3 linked regions of the Homo sapiens genome follow. The protein of the gene in region 2 interacts with the protein of the main gene of each other region in a pairwise test. Each region holds a gene or a part of one and is shown on either strand. Other genes may lie near its edges. The genes, in order: VSTM1, TMEM248 and YIPF1.

Region 1 (3,750 bases), on a different chromosome or scaffold from region 2:
TAACCCAGTGACACACATTGTATCCATTAGATAATTCTTTTTTTTTGATGGAGTCTTGCTCTGTGACCCAGGCTGGAGTGCAGTGGCGTGATCTCAGCTCACTGCAACCTCCGCCTCCCGGGTTCAAGCGATTCTCCTGCCTCAGCCTCCTGAGTAGCTGGGACTATGGGCGTGTGCCACCACGCCCGGCTAATGTATCCATCATCATAACACACAACCATTTGAATGAATCTCACAGGCATTGTGCTGAGTGAAAAAGGTCACCCTCAGAAGGTGAGGCGATGGACGATTCCATTTATACAAGAGTCTCAAAGTGACAAAGTGATAGAGACGTAGAACAGATTAGCAGGTGCTAGGGTGGGAGAGCGATTATAAAGGGGCAGCATGAGGGAGTTCCTACGTGGTGGTGGGACAGTTCTGTGTCTTGATTGTGGCGGTGGTTCTATAAAGCCATACATACAGGCAATAAAATGTTACAGAACTATACCCATAGGCAAAGAAAAGGGAGGAGGAAAAGAAGGTGGAAGAGGAGGAAGAGCAGGAGAAAAGAAGGAAAAGGAGAAAAGGAAATAGAAATAGAAGGAAGAGGAAGAGAAAAAGAGAAACGAATTATGCACAAACTGGTGAGATCTGAGTGACCTCTGGAACCTGGTTAAACGTGTGATGCCAGTGCAAAGTCTCTGGTTTTGAAAATGTGCCATACGCCGGGCGTGGTGGCTCACGCCTGTAATCCCAGCAGTTTGGGAGGCCGAGGCAGGCGGATCGCCTGAGGTCAGAAGTTCGAGACCAGCCTGGGCAACATGGCAAAACCTCGTTTCTACTAAAAAGAACAAAAAAAATTAGCCAAGAGTGGTGGCGGACACCTGTCATCCCGGCAACTCGGGAGGCTGAGGCAGGAGAATCGCTTGAACCCGGGAGGCAGAGGTTGCAGTGAGCCAAGATTGTGCCACTGCACTCCAGCCTGGCTGACAGAGATTCTGTCTCAAAAAAAAAAAAAAAAAAAAAAAGTACTGTAATTATAAGAGATTACCATTGGCCGGGCACAGTGGCTTATGCCTGTAATCCCAGCACTTTGGGAGGCTGAGGTGGGCGGGTCACTAGAGACCAGGAGTTCAAGACCAGCCTGGCCCACATGGTGAAATCCCATCTCTACAAAAAATTAGCTGGGTGTGGTGGTGCATGCTTGTAATCCCAGCTACTTGGGAGTCTGAGGCAGGAGAATCCTTAAACCCATGAGGCAGAGGTTGCAGTGAGCCGAGATCGCGCCACTGCACTCCAGCCTGGGTGACAGAGCAAGACTCTGTCCCCCCCGCCCCCCAAAAAAAGGTTAACATTGTGGGGAGCTGGCTAGTGGGTACACGGAAGCTATAAAGCTATAGGTATTAATGTTTGTTTGTTTGCTTGTTTGAGACAGTTTCACCGTTGTTGTCCAGGCTGGAGTGCAGTGGCACAATCTTGGCTCACAGCAACCTCCGCCTCCTGGGTTCAAGCCATTCTCCTGTCTCAGCCTCCGGAGTAGCTGGGATTACAGGCATGCGCCACCATGCCTGGCTAATTTTGTATTTTTAGTAGAGACGGGGGTTTCTCCATTTTGGTCAGGCTGGTCTTGAACTCCCGACCTCAGGTGATCCGCCCGCCTCAGCCTCTCAAGGTGCTGGGATTACAGGCGTGAGCCACCGCGTCCGGCCGGTATTAGTGTTTTAAAATAAAAAATTACATTTACAGAAAACTCTTGGCAGAACTTCAGATAAGGTAGGACAGAGCTCGGGCGGGTGGGGCCACACACACCGGATTCATGGGGAAGAAGTTATCATCGACGGCTTCTTGTTTCCTGAGTCGGTTGTGAGAAGGAAACTGCAAGAGTGGGGCAGAGAACCAGAGTGTCAGAGCAAAACCTCCTCTATCTGCACATCCTGGGGACGAACCGGGCAGCCGGAGAGCTGCGGCCGGCCCAGTCCCGCTCCGCCTTTGAAGGGTAAAACCCAAGGCGGGGCCTTGGTTCTGGCAGAAGGGACGCTATGACCGCAGAATTCCTCTCCCTGCTTTGCCTCGGTGAGTCTCCAGGACTGGGACGAATGGGCTTGGGCTGGTGAGAAAAACTCATGTGGGAGTGGCAGTCCAGGTGGAAATGCGGTGTGTGGAAGTAATGACTTCCAGGTGTTGCACACCTGCGGTGGGTGGGTCTGGGCTGTGGGTTCTGTGAGTTCTGCCGCCCACATGCAAGCGAGGAGGAGGCCGCGCTGCAGAGACACGGGGACAGACTCCGCTGGGAAAGGCAGAGCTGCTGTGGGGTCTCCGAGTCTGCAGCCGCTAAATACCGCAGTACTGCCATCATCCTCCGTCGGAATAGAGGAGGGCTGGGCTTAGGGATCTACAGGGTGCAAGGCTGTGGGCAAAAAGACAATTTTCTTCTCTCTCTCTCTTATTTATTTATTTATGTATGTATGCATTTATTTATGAGACAGAGTCTCACTCTGTAGCCCAGGCTGGAGTGCAATGGCGTGATCTGGGCTCACTGCAACCTCCGTCTCCCAGGTTCAAGCGATTCTCCTGCCTCAGCCTCCCGAGTAGGTGGGACTACAGGTGCAGGCCACCACACCCGGCTGACTTTTGTATTTTAAGTAGAGACGGGGTTTCACCATGTTGGTCAGGCTGGTCTCGAGCCCCTGACCTCAGGTGATCCGCCCGCCTCAGCCTCCCAAAGTGCTGGGATTACAGGCGTGAGCCACCACACCTGGCCCCAAGAAGACAATTTTCTGACCAGCTCGATTCTTAGGCTGATTTTAACCATCCTCCAATTGAACCTGATGTATTCAGACAGAGCTCACACTGTGAAACGGATGACCTGGGTTATAATCTCGGCTTTACTACATAGAAACTCTAGGCTTGACCCAGCAGAGCTCCACCTCCCTAAGGCCCCAGTTCCTCCCTGGTGCACGGGGGGTGCGGTGGACATCGACGTGCTTCGTCTGCTTCAGTTCCTTCCTCCTTTTCTGGGTGCAGCCCTTCCTTGTGGGGTAATGCTCGTCTCCTACACACATTTGCACCTTAGATGAGCATTTTTTTTTTTTTTTGACAGAGTCTTGCTTTGTCTCCCAGGCTGGAGTGCAGTGGTGTGATCTCAGCTCACTGCAACCTCCACCTCCTGGGTTCAAGCGATTCTCCTGCCTCCGCCTCCCGAGAAGCTGGGATTATAGGCACACGCCACCACGCCTGGCTAATTTTTTGTGTTTTTAGTAGAGATGGGGTTTCACCATGTTGGCCAGGCTGGTCTCAAACTCCTGAACTCAGGTGATCTACCCACTTCAACCTCCTAAAGTGCTGGGATTACAGGTGTGAGCCACTGCACCCGGCTATTTGTGCCTTAGAGATGACTATCGGGTTCATACCCAAGCCTCCAGCTGCTGAGCACAGTAAGCTGGGCAACCAGGAGACTGACCTCATCCCCCAATGGCTGCCATACCAAAGTACTACAAGCCTGGTGGCTTAAAGGAATTAGAATTGCTTTAAGTTGGGGAGATGAGAAGTCTGAAACCAAGGTGTTTGCAATGTTGATTCCTTCTGAGAACTATGAAGGAGCGTCTGTTTTATGCCCCTCTTCTAGTGATGGCTGACAATTCTTGGCATTTTTTTTTTTTCTTGAGGCGGAGTCTTGCTCTGTCACCCAGGCTAGAGTGCAGTGGCATGATCTTTCTCACTGCAACCTCCACCTCCTGGGTTCAATCAATTCTCCTGCCTTAGCCTCCCAAG
Region 2 (3,750 bases):
CTTTGGAAATGCAATACCGTATCAAAGGTGCAGACTGTTTCAAATGTTCTCTACATATTGGGCTGAAACAAGAACCAAACCAAACTTCAACCCCATCAGCGACGCAATGCTCCTGTGACCTTGGTGAAAACATCGTCGTGACCAGCTAGATCCAGGAATCCTTCTCTAGAGACACGTGGAAACGTCCCATCAGGTAGGTCCTCAAGTCCAAGGTGGGGTTGAAGGGCTCTGGCTGTACCCAGGGCAAAGCACGTGCATTATTGGACCAATTTCTGAATAGATTTTTATAAATATGTACAAATCAGTTACAGGCACTTGAAATGTCTTTGGCTGGAATAACCCAACATCGCAAGATAATGTATTCACAGAGCATCCAGGCCCAGGCTGGGTTCAGCAGGCAAGGATTATGGTTCTCTCAGTCTCTCTCAAAAAACAAGGAGCTGTGGAATTAGGCTTCAGCCAAAGCCACCTGGAAGACAGCAAGCCAGGGAAACCAGTCAAAAAAGGGAAGCCTAGGTAACTCAGCCCCTACCCAAAGACCAGGATGCCACACTAATTGCACATATCAACCAGACAGTGAAGTTACTAAATCCCTAAAAAGAAAATCTCACCTAGGAAGAAATTACTAGAAATCTCAAAGTCTCCTGCAAGACGCGGCCCATCTGGAACCACTGTGCGGAGACAGAATTAACTGGTTTTTGTTTTTTTGAGACACGGTCTCGCTCTGTTGTCCAGGCTGGAGTGCAGTGGTGCAATCGTAGGTTACTGCAGCTTCCAACTTCTGGGCTCAAGCAATTCTCCTTCCTCAACCTCCCCAGTAGCTGGGAATACAGGCATGCACCATTACATCTGGCTAATTTTTTAACTGTTAGTAGAGAAGGGTTCTCACTATGTTGCCCAGGCTGGTCTTGAACTCGTGGGCTCAAGTGATCCTTCTGCCTCAGCCTCCTAAAAGTCCTGGGATTACAGGTCCACCTAGCTGAGGTAACTGTCTTTAAACCTTGATAAGCATTCTGTTAGAAGACTTCTTATGCTGATGGAACTACAGAGGAGGCAGCTACCCAGAGTCAGTAGTGCTCCAGTGGAGACTTGAGAACAACTGCCAAGTCACTCCCTTTAATAGCAACAGAGGCTTGGGTATATGATTAAAAATCCAACAACATAATTTAGGTTGAGAGTAAAGACACTTCTAATGAAGACAGAAACTACCGCTGGCCTTCTGTAATTGTGGGTTTCATATCCACAGATTCAACCAAAAATACACAAAAGAGGGCTGGGCATGGTAGCTCACACCTGTAATCACCTGTAATCTTTGAGAGGCCAATGTGGGTGGATTGCTTGAGCCCAGGAATTCAAGACCAGCCTAGGCAATGTGGCGAAACCCTGTCTTTTCAAAAAATACAAAAATTAACCAGGTGTGGTGATGCATGCCTGTGGTCCCAGCTACTCAGGAGGTTGACGATCGCTTGAGCCTGGGAGGTCAAGGCTGCAGTGAACTATGATTGAGTCATGAGCTACGATCGCACCACTCTACTCCAGCCTGGGTGACAAAGTGAGACCCTGTCTCAAAAAAAAAAAAAAAAAAAATTAAAAAAGCAAAAATACTCAAAAGAAAAAAAACCAATACATAAGAATACAACAATAAAAATAACACAAGTTTTAAAAATACACTGTAACAACTATTTACATAGTATTTACATTGTATTAGGTATTATAAGTAACCTAGAAGCTGGGCCCAGTGGCTCACGCCTGTGATCCCAGCACTTTGGGAGGCCAAGGCAGGTGGATCACTTGATAACAGCAGTTCGAGACTAGCCTGGACAACATGGTGAAACCCTGTATCTACTAAAAATACAAAAATTAGCTGAGTGTGGTGGCACATGCCTGTAATCCCAGCTACTCTCGAGGCTGAGGCAAGAGAATCACTTGAGCCCAGGAGGCAGAGGTTGCAGTGAGCCAAGATCGTGCCACAGCACTCCAGCCTTGGTGACAGAGCAAAACTCTCTCAAAAAAAAAAAAAAAAAAAAAAAAGAAAGTAATCTAGAGATTAACGTTACAGAGGATGAGCTGGGCACAGTGGCTCACACCTGTAATTCCAGCACTTTGGGAGGCCAAGGCGGGTGGATCACTTGAGGTCAGGAGTTTGAGACCAGCCTGGCCAACATGGTGAGACCCGGTCTCTACTAAAAATGCAAAAACTTAGTGGGACGCGGTGGCTTGCGACTGTAATCCCAGCTCCTCGGGAGGCTGAGGTGGGAGAACTGCTTGAACCTGGGAGGCGGAGGCTGCAGTGAGCCAAGATAGTGCCACTGCACTCCAGCCTGGGAGACAGAGCGAGACTCCATCTCAAAAAAAAAAGTTACAGAGGATGTGCAGAGGTCATATGCAAATACTGTACCATTTTACAGAAGGGATTTGGACATTCATGAATTTCGATATCCACCAGGGTCCTGGAACCAATCCTCCTCGGATACCAAGGGATGACTGTCATTTCTTTAGACGAAAGGTGCCACCCACAATAAATAGAATAAGGATAACTGGGACTTTCTGTATACAGAGACCTCTAGTAAAATGCTGGCCCGGACCCCATCCACCGCTCACCTTCTCGGGACAAAATTCAGGATTGCTCTGACGCAATTTGCTAGGTCTGCCCTTGATAACAGCATAGCAAAACATTGTTATCACCATCACAAAGAGGAAGTAACTGGTGTGCATGAGATGCAAATTTATTAATGAACGGTCATCCTAAATAAAGAAGAGAAAAAAAATCAGAAACATCTGCTCTGAGTGACTGAAAGGTTTTAATGCTGGGTTTTGAGAGACAGGATTGACAGCCTCCAGACTTGCCACAACTTTTCTTCTTAAGCTGCAAGAGGAGGTTTCTCCTTTTGCCTCCTAAATGACCAAAGCTGGGTCTCATTAAGTGAAGACATGGTGCTCCCGAGCCTCTGTTGGAGAGCACCACGCCTTCCTAGCGCTGTCCTCTGCCCTGCCTTCTGCACCCCCACACTGCCTGAACCCTGCCCCTCCAGCAGGCTTCCTCCCCTGCAAATGCTGCAGACACTCCATCTTTAAGCCCCACTCCTTTCTGGACACATCCTCGTCACAAGACTGCCCTCAGGTTGCATGGCTGACAGCCGAGGCTGCATTCCTAACTCCTGACTATGCCCCCACCAGGAAGGCCTCGGCACCTCACCCCTCCCCAGGGGTCACGCCCTTCCTCCTGCTTTTCTCTATTTCCCTAAGTCCTTGGATGAAAATGCTGAGATCATCCGTGATTCACTACCCTTTGACCTCCCACATGCAGTCAATTCCCAGACCCTGCAAGTTACTAAAGGGACCCCAGACATGGTTCCATTCCTTTACCCTCTAGTATCTCCAGGCCTCAGGACAGCTCTGGGCTCCCCCAGGTCATTTATAACATAGCGGGGCAGCTCAGTCTTCTCAACACACTGCTTTACCAACACCCACGCCCCAAACACAGGCAGGGACTGCCCTTGGCCAGGCACTAAGGGCCTCAGCCCACCATCCAGCCTGACCTCCATAGCTGGCTCCTGCAGGACCCTGGCCTACAAATGAGCCCCAGAAAAGGGCAAAGGTCGGGCATAGTGGCTCATGCCTATAATCCCAGCACTTTGGGAGGCTGAGGTGGGAGGATCACCTGAAGTCAGCAGTTCAACACCAACCTGGCCAACATGTCGAAACCTTATCTCTACCAAAAATACAAAAATTAGCTGGGCGTGTTGGCAG
Region 3 (3,750 bases), on a different chromosome or scaffold from region 2:
TTTTTTGTTTGTTGTTGGTTTTTTTTGCCACTCTTATGTGTGGTCACTCAGAATAATACTGTGAGATTTAGTCCTTGTCTACAGCAGAAAGCTTTCAGTCTAGTGAGTAAAGAGGCAGTTTGTGGAGAGCTAATATTGGTGACTTTTTGAAGCATACCCATTTGATTGCTTGTGTTCCTTTTCCCACCTTCAGGGGCCAGTGCTTGCCTTTGAAAAGTACTAATCTGTTTCTGCTAGTCATCTCACCTATGACAGTAATGTTCGTAATTTTGTGACGTGTCAAGGTACCTGAAATTATCCCAAAGGGTGTTGCAAAATATTAGTGAAATTGAAAAATGAAATTCATACAATTTATTAAAATCTCTCAATCTAAAGATAGTATTTGTTCTACATAGTACTTTTTCTAGATGGGGAGAGACAAGGATAGTGTTCACGAAATCATGCAAATAATGAAAGAGGTTTGTAAAGCATGGTCCACTCATCTGCTCAGTGGTATATCTTAAAACCATTGAAAAAGAACAAGCTGATTTTTATGAGTAGCTGTGATAGACTCACCAGGCTATATTAAGGTGAAAATAGAAGGGTACACAGGAGGACATATATGTATGTTATCATCTGTATAAAATATGCACATATACACATGCATTTGCTTATATACATGAGTGGAATATTCCTAGCAGGTTTCATCAGAAACTGCTTACTTTGGTGAGCTTTAGGGAGGAAAGATAGAGAGCCGGGGCACAGAGAGGGAGTGGATCTTGCTGTTCTCCATATTCCCTTTGTACCTTTTGAAACACTGGACCATATACATATATTACTTTTTTTAATTTTTAATTTTAATTTTTGTGGGTAGACAGTAGGTGTATATAGTGCATTGTATTACTTTTTCATTAAAAAAAAAAAGAAAAAGCCTTAAGCACACACACACACACACACACACACTGACACTCAACACAACCGTGGTGAACTGGTAGGTTTAATCGACTCTGCCCTCATGTGTTCTGTTTGCCCTGCTCTTTCTGTATGCTGCACAAGCTCTGTCTGATTTAACTTCTTTCTCTGTGATGCTAACATTTGGCACTTAGATAAGCGAAGTAATCTTTACTTCATGTATTCTGGTGGAAGGTTTAATAAAAAGCCTGTGAATTTTTCTTTGTCGGTGGTGATCCTCCAACAAAAGAAGCTATACAGAAATCAGTGTCTTCATTCACCTAATTGTGGAAGGCGTTTTGGCCTTTGGATTGGAGTACCAACACCCCACCTTCTTTAAGGCAGCTAATTACTGAGATGTGTGTTTGACCTTTGAAAAAAAAATTTCCCTTCAGCAAGTGTTGATCCCATCTAGAAAATTCATTTTCTTTTGCTAACATGAATACAAGAGGAAGATAAGAAATTCTGTAAGAATCTAAAGGCTTATGCTTCATTTTCTTGTTTCTGAATTTTCTGGTTTCCTTTGCAGGCCCCTTTTGGATATGTGCCACGTTGGTCTTTGCCATAGCAATTAGTGGGAATCTTTCCAACTTCTTGATCCATCTGGGAGAGAAGACGTACCATTATGTGCCCGAATTCCGAAAAGGTTGGTGAATAGCTTGACTCATTTGGAATGCTGTCAGTTTCTAGCTTTGAGTTCTTTTTACCCACTGAGCTCCTGGGCCCCATCTCTAGATGCTGCAGCCCTGCTTTTGTGTTTTAGGGTTCAATGTATCTACTCAAATGTGTAGATGAGTTTACCACCCATCTATATAAATCCACATAATCTTTTTCTTCTTACAGTGGTAAAATATATATTACATAAAATTTACCATTTAAATGTGTAATTCAATGGCATTAAGTACATTCACAATGTTATGAGTCCACATAATCTTTGGGAAAGCTGTAAATCAAGGCCGAATAGCAACTGCAGTTTATTCCTTTTTTTTTTTTTTTTTTTTTTTTGAGACAGTGACTCGCTCTGTCACCCAGGCTGGAGTGCAGTGGTACGATCACAGCTCACTGCAGCCTCCACCTCCCTGGGCTCAAGTAATCCTCCCACCTCAGCCTCCTGAGTAGCTGGGACCATAGGCATGCAACACCATACCTGGCTAATTTTTCTATTTTTTTATAGAGATAGGTCTCCCTGTGTTGCCCAGGCTGATCTCAAACTCTTGGGCTCAAGTGATTCTCCCATCTTGGCCTCCCGAGGTGCTAGGTAGGATTACAGGTGTGAGCCATCACACCTGGCCACAGCTGGAATATATTCTAAGACAAGTGTACAAAATAATTTAAAGGTGTGTGTGAAGGTCTCCTGTGTGGCATTATTTGTATTATCCACATTTTGGAGACAATAGAAACATTGTTTTAGGCTGTGATGGCTCAACTAGCTGGGGTCATCTGCAATTGCCAGTCACAAAGCACCTAGAGCTATGTGGAAAATTCATAACTTATTCCAAACTGGTGCCTATTCTGTTAGCAACTTTGCTGAAGAGAAATCTGGGCTGGACATGGTTGCTCATGCCTGTCATCCCAGCACTTTGGGAGGCCAAGGTGGGAGGATTGCTTGAGCTGAGGAGTTTGAGATCAGCCTGGGCAACATAGTGAGACCTTGTCTCTAAAACTAAAAACTAAAAAAAAGTTACCGGGTATGGTGGTGCATGCCTGTAGTCCCAGCTACTCAGGAGGCTGAGTTGGGAGGATGACTTGAGCCCAGAGATTGAGGCTGTAGTGAGCTGTGATCGTACCACTGCACTCCAGCCTGGGTGACAGAGCGAGTCACTGTCTCAAAAAAAAAAAAAAAAAAAAAAAAAAAAAGAGACCCGGTGCGGTGGCTCAAGCCTGTAATCCCAGCACTTTGGGAGGCCAAGGTGGGTGGATCACAAGGTCAGGAGTTCGAGACCAGTCTGACCAACATGGTGAAACCCGTCTCTACTAAAAATAAAAAATTATCCAGGCATGGTGGCGCATGCCTGTAATCAGGAGGCTGAGGCAGGAGAATTGGTTGAACCCAGGAGGCGGAGGTTGCAGTGAGCCGAGATCACGCTACTGCACTCTAGCCTGGGCAACAGAGAGAGACTCTGTCTCAAAAAAAAAAAAAAAAAAGCGGGGAGAAAGAAGTCTGCAAATGATCAAAGCCTGGAAGGGAAAATGCAGAAATGAATGTGTCCTAGGGATGGGCTTGTGAATGACATTCTTGTTTTAAAACGTCCTTTCTTATGTCAGTATTGGGTATTTAGAAGAAAAAACAAAACAGCTTTTAGAGACTTGCAGATGACAGCTGCCCCCAAATGAGGAAGTTTGGCTTTGTCGGAGATTGGCCTGTACCACTTTCTCAGTTCCCTCGCTCTCTCCCTGCCTGCTCTGCTGTCGAGAGGCTGTAAGTAGCCTGGATAAGAGCACCAGTTCTGGAACTAGACTGCTAGCTTCAGTTCCAGCTCCACCACTCACTAGCTTCTACTCTGTTGGGCAAGCTATTTTATGTCTGAGCCTCAGATTCTTCATTGGTGAAATGGAAATAATAATATTTATCTTACAGGACTATTGTAAGAATAAAGAGTTAATATATATAAAAAGCTTAGAATAGTGGTTTGTACCAAAAAGAGTTCAATAAACATTAACTATTACTATACACACACACACACACAAAAATATGTGCACATATATTCAATCCCATTATTTATCCAGTAACCTTGGTTTGAGTTTAATGCAATAAATGTTAACCATGAGATAGAAACCCTGCCTTCAGCTAGTTCACTGTGTGTACATAGAAAGATATGT

The links.
Region 1: the proteins of TMEM248 (region 2) and VSTM1 interact in binary tests that used the Homo sapiens proteins (3 or more experiments, as listed by UniProt).
Region 3: the proteins of TMEM248 (region 2) and YIPF1 interact in binary tests that used the Homo sapiens proteins (3 or more experiments, as listed by UniProt).

Annotation. Positions count from the first base shown.
Region 1 is NC_000019.10:54,062,046-54,065,795, reverse strand, and holds the start of VSTM1 (V-set and transmembrane domain-containing protein 1 isoform 1 precursor), read left to right. Parts: upstream 1-1,898; 5' UTR 1,899-2,018; coding exon 2,019-2,052; intron 2,053-3,750.
Region 2 is NC_000007.14:66,952,221-66,955,970, reverse strand, and holds part of TMEM248 (transmembrane protein 248), read right to left. Parts: intron 2,746-3,750; coding exon 2,602-2,745; intron 470-2,601; coding exon 449-469; 3' UTR 1-448.
Region 3 is NC_000001.11:53,869,198-53,872,947, reverse strand, and holds part of YIPF1 (protein YIPF1), read left to right. Parts: intron 1-1,459; coding exon 1,460-1,576; intron 1,577-3,750.